Homo sapiens: one gene and its partner. The protein of the gene in region 1 purifies or fractionates together with the protein of each later gene. This does not show direct contact. Each region holds a gene or a part of one and is shown on either strand. Other genes may lie near its edges.

What was found.
Region 2: the proteins of LAYN (region 1) and ADNP purify together in Homo sapiens (affinity purification with western blotting, with the first as the bait; one study listed by BioGRID). This does not show direct contact.

What each region holds. Positions count from the first base shown.
Region 1 is NC_000011.10:111,539,271-111,543,529, reverse strand, and holds the start of LAYN (layilin isoform 2 precursor), read right to left. Parts: upstream 2,811-4,259; 5' UTR 2,687-2,810; coding exon 2,602-2,686; intron 2,197-2,601; exon of another isoform or gene 1,969-2,196; coding exon of another isoform or gene 1,945-1,968; intron 1-1,944. UniProt on the Homo sapiens protein: Receptor for hyaluronate.
Region 2 is NC_000020.11:50,903,685-50,907,495, forward strand, and holds part of ADNP (activity-dependent neuroprotector homeobox protein), read right to left. Parts: intron 1,166-3,811; 5' UTR 1,082-1,165; intron 318-1,081; coding exon of another isoform or gene 313-317; coding exon 205-312; intron 1-204.

The DNA of each region.
Region 1 (4,259 bases):
TTAAGGTAAGAGAGGCTTCCTGAAGTCAGGCATGGGCTCCTCTATTCTGGAACCCTCTGCCTGTGCAGCAGGACTGAGAATTTGCCCAGTCTCTGGTGTAAGCAGAAGCTAAAAGCATCAGATCCACGGGGTTTTCTGCTACTGACAGTCAGCCCTCTGACCTAAAGACAACAGTTAAGGTTTACTGAACTCCTACTATGTGCCATAAACTATGGTAAGGGCTTAACATTTACTTACATACTTTATCTCATGTAACCCTCATAATAGTCCCCTGATGCAGATACTGTTTATGGCTTATTTTACAAATGAGAAAACTGGAGCTCAGGGAAGTTAAGTAATTTGGCCAAGATCACACAGTGATCATCAGCATCACCGGAGTTAGAGCCCAGATCTAATTACAAAATCATGCTGGTACCAGTGAACTAAATTGCTAGCTCCCCGCTGCACCCCAGGCTCATGTTTTACTGGGAGCCTATGTAATGTGTCTTATCAGTCTGTCCCCTGAAGGGCTGAAGATCATCTCAGACAAACAGATGGGATTTTACTGAGGAGCCAATAACAAATCGCTCACAGTACACACTGCTCTAGCTTGCGTCTGTGTGACTGAAGCCTTGCTGCAATGGAGACACTAGCCTCATCACTCCTTTCATTCAATCAACATTTATTGAGTGTACACTTTGTGCCTGGCACTGTGCGAGGTGCTGGGAATACAGGAACAAAAGCTACTTCCTAACCCACAGGAGCACACAGCATATGTTTCCGGATTCAAATGTTCAAAGTGAAAACCACGTATCAACACGGGGAGTAGTCCCCCTGCAAAGAGAAAGCCAAATTGTGGGCTGTGGGTGCGAACTGCTGCCACAGTGCCGGGGGTAAAATATTTTGGTTTGGGAACCTCCTCCCAGAACTTCTGGAATGTTCTTGTTTTCCCAACTTGTTTTACAGCTGCGCAGGGAGCCAGATAGCATTCATTAATTCCCAACACTGGCCAGCATATAGGGCAAGGGGCCACAGACAGATAGAACTATATGATTAGTGCTAAATGAGAAAGAGCACATACAGATTATCCAGAAAGCTCCAGTGAGTCTTCATTTTCTATTTCTTCTCTCATCACTTTCATAAAGGAATTCTCAATGAGCAACAAGTTATAAGAGTTCCACATCTTCTCCCTTTTCCTGTCATTATTTGGCTATTGCTGATAATAGAGAAACTCTAATTAGACTGGTCCAGCAGCACATTAGGAGGGTTCAAAAGCCAGACCTGCTTGCAAGAAGGTATTCAGAGAGGCTGAGGCAGGGATACCCCCGGGAAGGGGGCTGGGCCAGCCACGCTTTTGCGATTCCTCAAAGCTGGCTCCAAATTGGGCAGCAGAGGAGGGGCAAATGAGCCCCCAGGAACTTATCCAACCTGGCCACCGGCATAACATAAGCTGGAGTTGAATTTCCTGACAACCCCCACTTTCCATGTTGGATTGTCAAGGGAAACATAACACCTTAAGCGAGTTTCCTGTATGGTCCAGCCTGGCCACACATCCGAAGTCTGCGGGTGAGTGCCAGAGACCGTCAGAGCTGGAAGGAGGCCCGCGGGCCTATCTGGTTCTCCTGCCTTCAGGAAGTGTCCTTCTCTTCTCATTTGCAGGAAGGCGAAGGGTGGGAGGGCCTTCTGTTCCCCGCGACCAAGGACAGAGCCCACGCAGCCCTAACCCAAGCAGCTCAATTCAGCTTCCCACCTCTTTTGCCGCCCCGCCCCCATCCTGAAACCAACTTTACATTCTTTAAATTAGTTTCGCAAGCCAGGATGCCAGAGTAGAGGAGGTTCCCAGTCTCCTCTGTCCCGTTTGGTCAAGCTGTTGGCACCCGCAAAAAGGATCTGAGAAAAGGGCACGGATGTTCTCCCCCCGACATGCAGAACAACTGAAAGAAGCCAGAAGCCAGAGCACTTTACCTCCTCTGAGGTCCAAATCCGAGGCTGCAGTGACACAACAGGAGGAAGGAAGCAGAGAGTCATTCCCCGGAGTCAGGTGGGGCTCGTCCCACACTAACTGGAGTTCTTTCCCGATCTCTAAGCGCTCTCATACCGGGCGCTCGACCCAGCCATCCAACCCCGCAGAAGAGACGAGGAGTAACAGGCAGGGTTCCCACGGCACCGGGGATCCAGCATCCCTACCCCGCTGTCTCTGCGGCCGCCTCCCGGAGCGGGCGGTAGGCGGGGGCCAGCTGGCAAGCCTGCCCCGCGGGGGTGGTCCCAAGGACTGATTCGATGCGTGTAAAGGAGCGGGCCGAAGGGGCACCCACTGGGGCAGGTTTGCCCACTGCCCCACCTCTCCTACATTCTCCAACCCACCCCCATAACTCTGGACTGGGAACGGGCTTCGAGCGTTCCAGGACGCGCAGGGAACTGCGCAGCTCCGGGAACTGGCGTGGGTCTCAGACGCCGTGCGACTGCCCCCAGAACGCAAGAGACTCCGAAGGGCTGCGTCTGGGAGTGGGGCATGGGACGGCCTTCTAGTCCCATACGTGGCGACCCAGAAGAGGGTCAGCAGCAGCTGGGGTGCAGTGAGCCCACCCCGGCACCAGCCCCCGCCCCAGCGCGCGCACTCACCACTCAGCAGGCGACCCGTCGCGGCCCGCAGCCCCACCAGCAGCACGGCCAGCAGCACGGCCTGTAGCGCGGTTCCCGGCCTCATGGCCCGACTCGGGTGCGCCCCCCGACACTCGGGCGCTACGGCGGTGGAGCGGGCTGGCGGGCAGAGGCGTGCGCGACAACTGCAACCGCGGCAGCAGCATCTCTAGGCCACCGACGGACCGCACGGGAGGCGGGGGGGAGGGCGCGGAGTCAGTCGGTCGCCCCTCCGCCCCCTGGGACGTCACTGCGAGGAGGGCAGCCCCGCTGGCTGGCCCGCCCCCGACAGCCTCCTCCAGCGAGGTTGGCGCCAGACACTCGGCCAGCCAGAGAGGGGCGAGTCGCAGAGGGGAACCAGCTCCCTGTCCCCCTCCGAGCTTCCCTGGGAGATCCCGCGTTTGCCCGAGGCGCTGGGCGGAGGAATACTTCAGTCGGGCCCCTAGGCAATCTGATAACGAGCACAGTGTGCCTAAAACTAGCACCACATCTCACCCCTCCTCTCCCGCTGACCTTAGCCAAGTTCGCCAGCTGTGCGGGTGCACCTGGAGAGAGAGGCGATGCGTGGACTCCTACCTGGGGCTCAGCAGGCCGCAGTCCCAGCACGAAGGGCGACGCCTGAGCAGGGAATGGTCGATGCAGAGAACAAACACTCACGCAGGCAGTGTGCCCACCGGCCAGGAAAGTTATGGGACACCGCGCGGATGGCATCCAAAGAACTTGGCTGAGTTGGAGCCCTCCCGACTGAAAGGAAAGCGGCTTCTACCAGAAGCCAAAAGATGTCCCAGATCCCTGGAAGGAAATGATTCTGTTTTTTGCAGGGAACAGGTTGGGAGGTGGGGGTCATAGTTAGGGAGTTCAGCTTTGGCCCCTCGCCCCGCAGGAAAGAATGAAACTATTATCTCAGGAAAAGCTTTCCTAACCTAGCCCTCAATGTGTGCTTCCTCTTGTAAACTCCCAAAGTAGGTGTGTTTCACTTTGGTTTCGTAAACAAAATGCTTTTAAATATAGTCAAGCAATAGAGTGAGCCATCTGTCCAAAGATTAAGGCACTAAGTAGCAGAAGGTGAATCTGACTTTCTGCCTTTTCTGCCACACCATGCTGCTGTGAAGCATAGCAGAAGCCCCATCTGGGCCACGACCTCTGGATTTTGGTTCCAGCTTGCTGCTTCTTACGTACTCTTTCTGCTTTTCAAAACAGCCAAGAAAGCAGTGATGCTTCTAAGGCCTCTAGCCACTGCAATTCTAAACAAACAGCCTGAATACAGGCTGGGGGTGAGAGGGGAGTGGGATGAATTTCAGTATCAGCTGAGACTATGGGGGAGCTCTGCTGCGGCACGTAACAGCTAACAGCGGTTGTGGCAGGATGAGGCCTGACCTTTATGGCAAGATCATTTATAGACCTTCCTTCTGTCCCAGTTAGAATACGTCAATGTCACATCTAACACACTTTCTTCTTAGAAATTCTTGGTTATCAAAACAACTTGAGAGAACTGTTATGGTGAAAAGAAGCACTGGAGTTGGCATTTGAGGGTCTGTTTCAGATTCTGCTCTTCATTTAATGTCTGTGTGGCCTTTGGCAATTCCGTTTGCCTAAGTTTCACTTAACTGTTGGTAACATTAACAGTTGCCTTAAGAGTT
Region 2 (3,811 bases), on another chromosome or scaffold:
GCCTTCTGCTTCAGGATGCAAAAATGAAAAAGCCCATTTTAGGGAGAAAGGCACAAGTTAATGCTATTGAGAATGTTTTCGTGAAGCTACTGCTGTGGCTGAAATTCAGAATCACATCTAAGATTTAGCCATCTTGGCCACTGACACAAAGTAATGGATCAGAAGCTGAGTCATGTTAAAATTTAAAAATGACATGCTACTTACTTCTATATGTTCTTTACAGTATTCCAACCCAATGTCACTAAGTATTTTTTTCACAGTTTTCCGGGCTTTTCTTAAACTGCCAAGATTGTTGACAGGAAGTTGGAACATAGTTTCTATTGGAAAAAAAAATTTAAGTCAAAGTCAAAACACGTACAACTTGTAATATTTACTAATTCCACTGATGATAGGATCATAAAACCTACCCATCTGACAAAAAAGGTGCATAGATATCCTCATCTAGTGTGTACACACACAGACACACACCTGCTTTCATGTGCATATGGCTTGATATATCCATCCATCCATCCTTCCTTCCTTTTCTTAAGACAGAGTCTTACTCTGTCGCGCAGGCTGGAGTGCAGTGCACTCATGGTTCATTGACTGCAGTGCACTCACGATTCACCATAGCCTCAACCTTCTGGGCTCAAGTGATCCTCTCACCTCAGCTTCTCAAGAGGAAGGGACTCCAGGAGTGCGCCACTATGCCCAACTAATTTTTAAAATTTTTTTGTAGAGACTAGGTCTCACTATGTTGCCAAGGCTGCTCACAAACTCCTGGACTCAAGCCATCCTCCTGCCTTGGCACCCCAAAGTGCTGGGATTATAGGCGTGAGCCACTGAGCCGAGCACATATCTACTATATTTTGAATACTTAAAGCAGGCAGGCAAAATAAGTACTCTCTGATTTTCCCAGTTTTTAACAGGACATTTTGACTATGAGTCTAATCTGGCATAATTCTGATAAGACTTAACAACAGTTCAGTAATGAACTTCAAGATGAAAATTAGAGAAATACTAGCAATCAATTATTTTTAAATCAAGTGTTAGTGCTTTTCTCATTTTGATGTTGAACATCTGAAAACAGAAAAATGCTTACCAGTTCATCATCATTACAGTTTTGAGTGCCAGGGTAAAGAGGTTTTTGTTGAATTGGAACTGTCCTGCCTACTGCTACGGTATTCTTTAAAACAAAAACAAAAACAAAAACAAAAACAAAAAAACCTTAAGTTTCTGTATACTCCCCAAACTAAATACAGTAATGATATGTGACTCGACCAATGCATGCCCCCACTCCACCCCTGCCTGCAACGTACCTGGGCAAAGGTACTCAAAAATGTTAACTGTTACAGACTTTAAGGAGGGTACTTTTGAAAAAAATGAAAAGCCTGTATGTGTCTAAGGGAACTCAAAAATTATTTTAATGACCTAATACATTAAATTAGAAATTCATATCAACTTTCCCAAGTTCCTTAAAACAGAAGTTTGTCTTTAATGAGAAAATAAAATCAGTAAAACCTGGGCAGCTGAGAATATGTATGGTTTCTAATGAGATCAGAAATGCTTCCCATAATATGGTAAAAATTTATCAATTTAATAATCCAAATCTAACACAATTTCGCAGGATATAAAGTAGTTCTAAAACCCAAAACAGCAAAAACAAAAGACAAAGCACCAGGAATTAAAATTTAATATATGCAAATCCAGTTTTCTAATTAACAAAGGCTGTTACTCTGTAATACCAATATCATCTGTAAATGGCAAGTCAACTAATCCAAATGTAATAAAATGCTGCCTCATTTATTATTCTAATCCAAAATCAACGTTAACTATAAAAAAATGGAAAATAAAAGGAGAAAGAGTGAAATCTACCAAAATCAAAGAGTAACCCCTAGAAATTTTGAAACTGGGTACGTTACTCTAACTTAGAAGTCTCAAAATATTCTATATGAAGTACCAAAGTCTAATTGGGGCCGAAAATGAAAAGTATTTCAAAAAAACCTTCTAGGCCTTATCATACTCAAGATAGAATTGCTGCTCACTATGAAGCAATGACTATGGTGTCCCCTGCTCTCTCTGCTATGCTAATAATCTGCATATTGTGAAGCCAACTACAGACTTAGAAGTCACTTCTGATATAAATTAAGACCAAATCAATTATTTTTTGTCCAAATTTTATTGCTAAATTGTTTTAAACCATCTTTTGTGGTGGCTTAAAACCAGCAAATTCTTTATCACTTGCTTAATTTAAAACAGTTAGTACACACTGGGCATGGTGCCTCACGCCTGTAATCCCAACACTTTAGGAGGCCGAGGAGGGCAGATCACGAGGTCAAGAGATCGAGACCAACCTGGCCAACATGGTGAAAACCCGACTCTACTAAAAATACAAAAAATTAGCTGGACGTAGTGGCACGTGCCTGTAATCCCAGCTACTCGGGAGGCTGAGGCAGGAGAATCGCTTGAACCCGGGAGGCAGAGGTTGCAGTGAGCCAAGATCGCACCACTGCACTCCAGCATGGCGAGAGCGAGATTCCATCTCAAAAACAGACAAACAAAAAACACATACAGTTACTACAAACCAGGTCTTTTAGAGAGAAGCACATGTTAGAAAAATATTTCAGAAATACAGAAAAGTGTCACAGGCTAATTCTGAAGAAACCAGGTATTAAAATGGATGCCCACAGATACCTAAGACTGGGAAGAGACATCTTGTTTCTCTGTTCATTTCATAAACTCTCTATGGGCCAAAATTCAGTTCTTTGGGAACTTCCTGAGTTAACTCTGCTTCACACTTCATAACAGATGTGTCCAGAAGCCAGCCATTAATGGTTTCCCTGCCTCCTGGATGAGTGGCTCAACAATCTCAGAAAAACAAAGACATAAAGATTTGGAAATGCAGCCACCACTGGGGTCATTAGTCTATAGAAAACATAAAAAAGAATCAAGCGGCAGCTTGGGGGAAAGAAAAACCCATTCTTCTAAGTGCCTACCCACAGCTTAAAAAGTCGGTTTAAGACATTAAGATGAAGCATCTCACTGCCTGGTAGGTATTTTTTTCTGAAAAAGTGAGTATGCCCATAAGGGAACTTAGTTGTAAGAAACTTGTAATTTATAAAAAGCGGTATTTCAGCCACAGAGTTGGTGTTGGGTTTACTTATCTATTTTGAATTTAAAAGGCTTATAAATAAAGCAGTGACACTGCTTACTGGGAAATGCTGTACCAAAAAATGTTATCTTGCTGTAGGCTTGGCAACTAGGAGAAATCTGTATTTTTTTTTTGAGACAGGGTTCCAGTTTTTTTTTTTTGTTTTTTTTTTTGAGACAGTCTCGCTCTGTCACCCAGGCTGGAGTGCAGTGTCACGATCTTGGCTCACTGCAAGCTCCGCCTCCCAGGTTCACACCATACTCCTGCCTCAGCCTCCTGAGTAGCTGGGACTACAGGCGCCACCACCATGCCCAGCTAATTTTTTGTATTTTTAGTAGAGATGGGGTTTCACCGTTTAGCCAGGATGGTCTTGATCTGACCTCGTGATCCGCCCATCTTGTGATCCGCCCATCTCAGCCTCCCAAAGTGCTGGGATTACAGCCACCGCGCCCGGCATTTTTTTTTTTTGAGACGGAGTTTTGCTCTTGTTGCCCAGGCTGGAGTGCAATGGCACAAATCTTGGCTCACTGCAACCTCTGCCTCCCAGGCTCAAGCAATTCTCCTTCCTCAACCTCCTGAGTAGCTGGGACTACAGGCGCGTACCACCACATCGTGCTAATTTTTGTATTTTTAATAGAGACAGGGCTTCACCATGTTGGCCAGGCTGGTCTCAAACTCCTG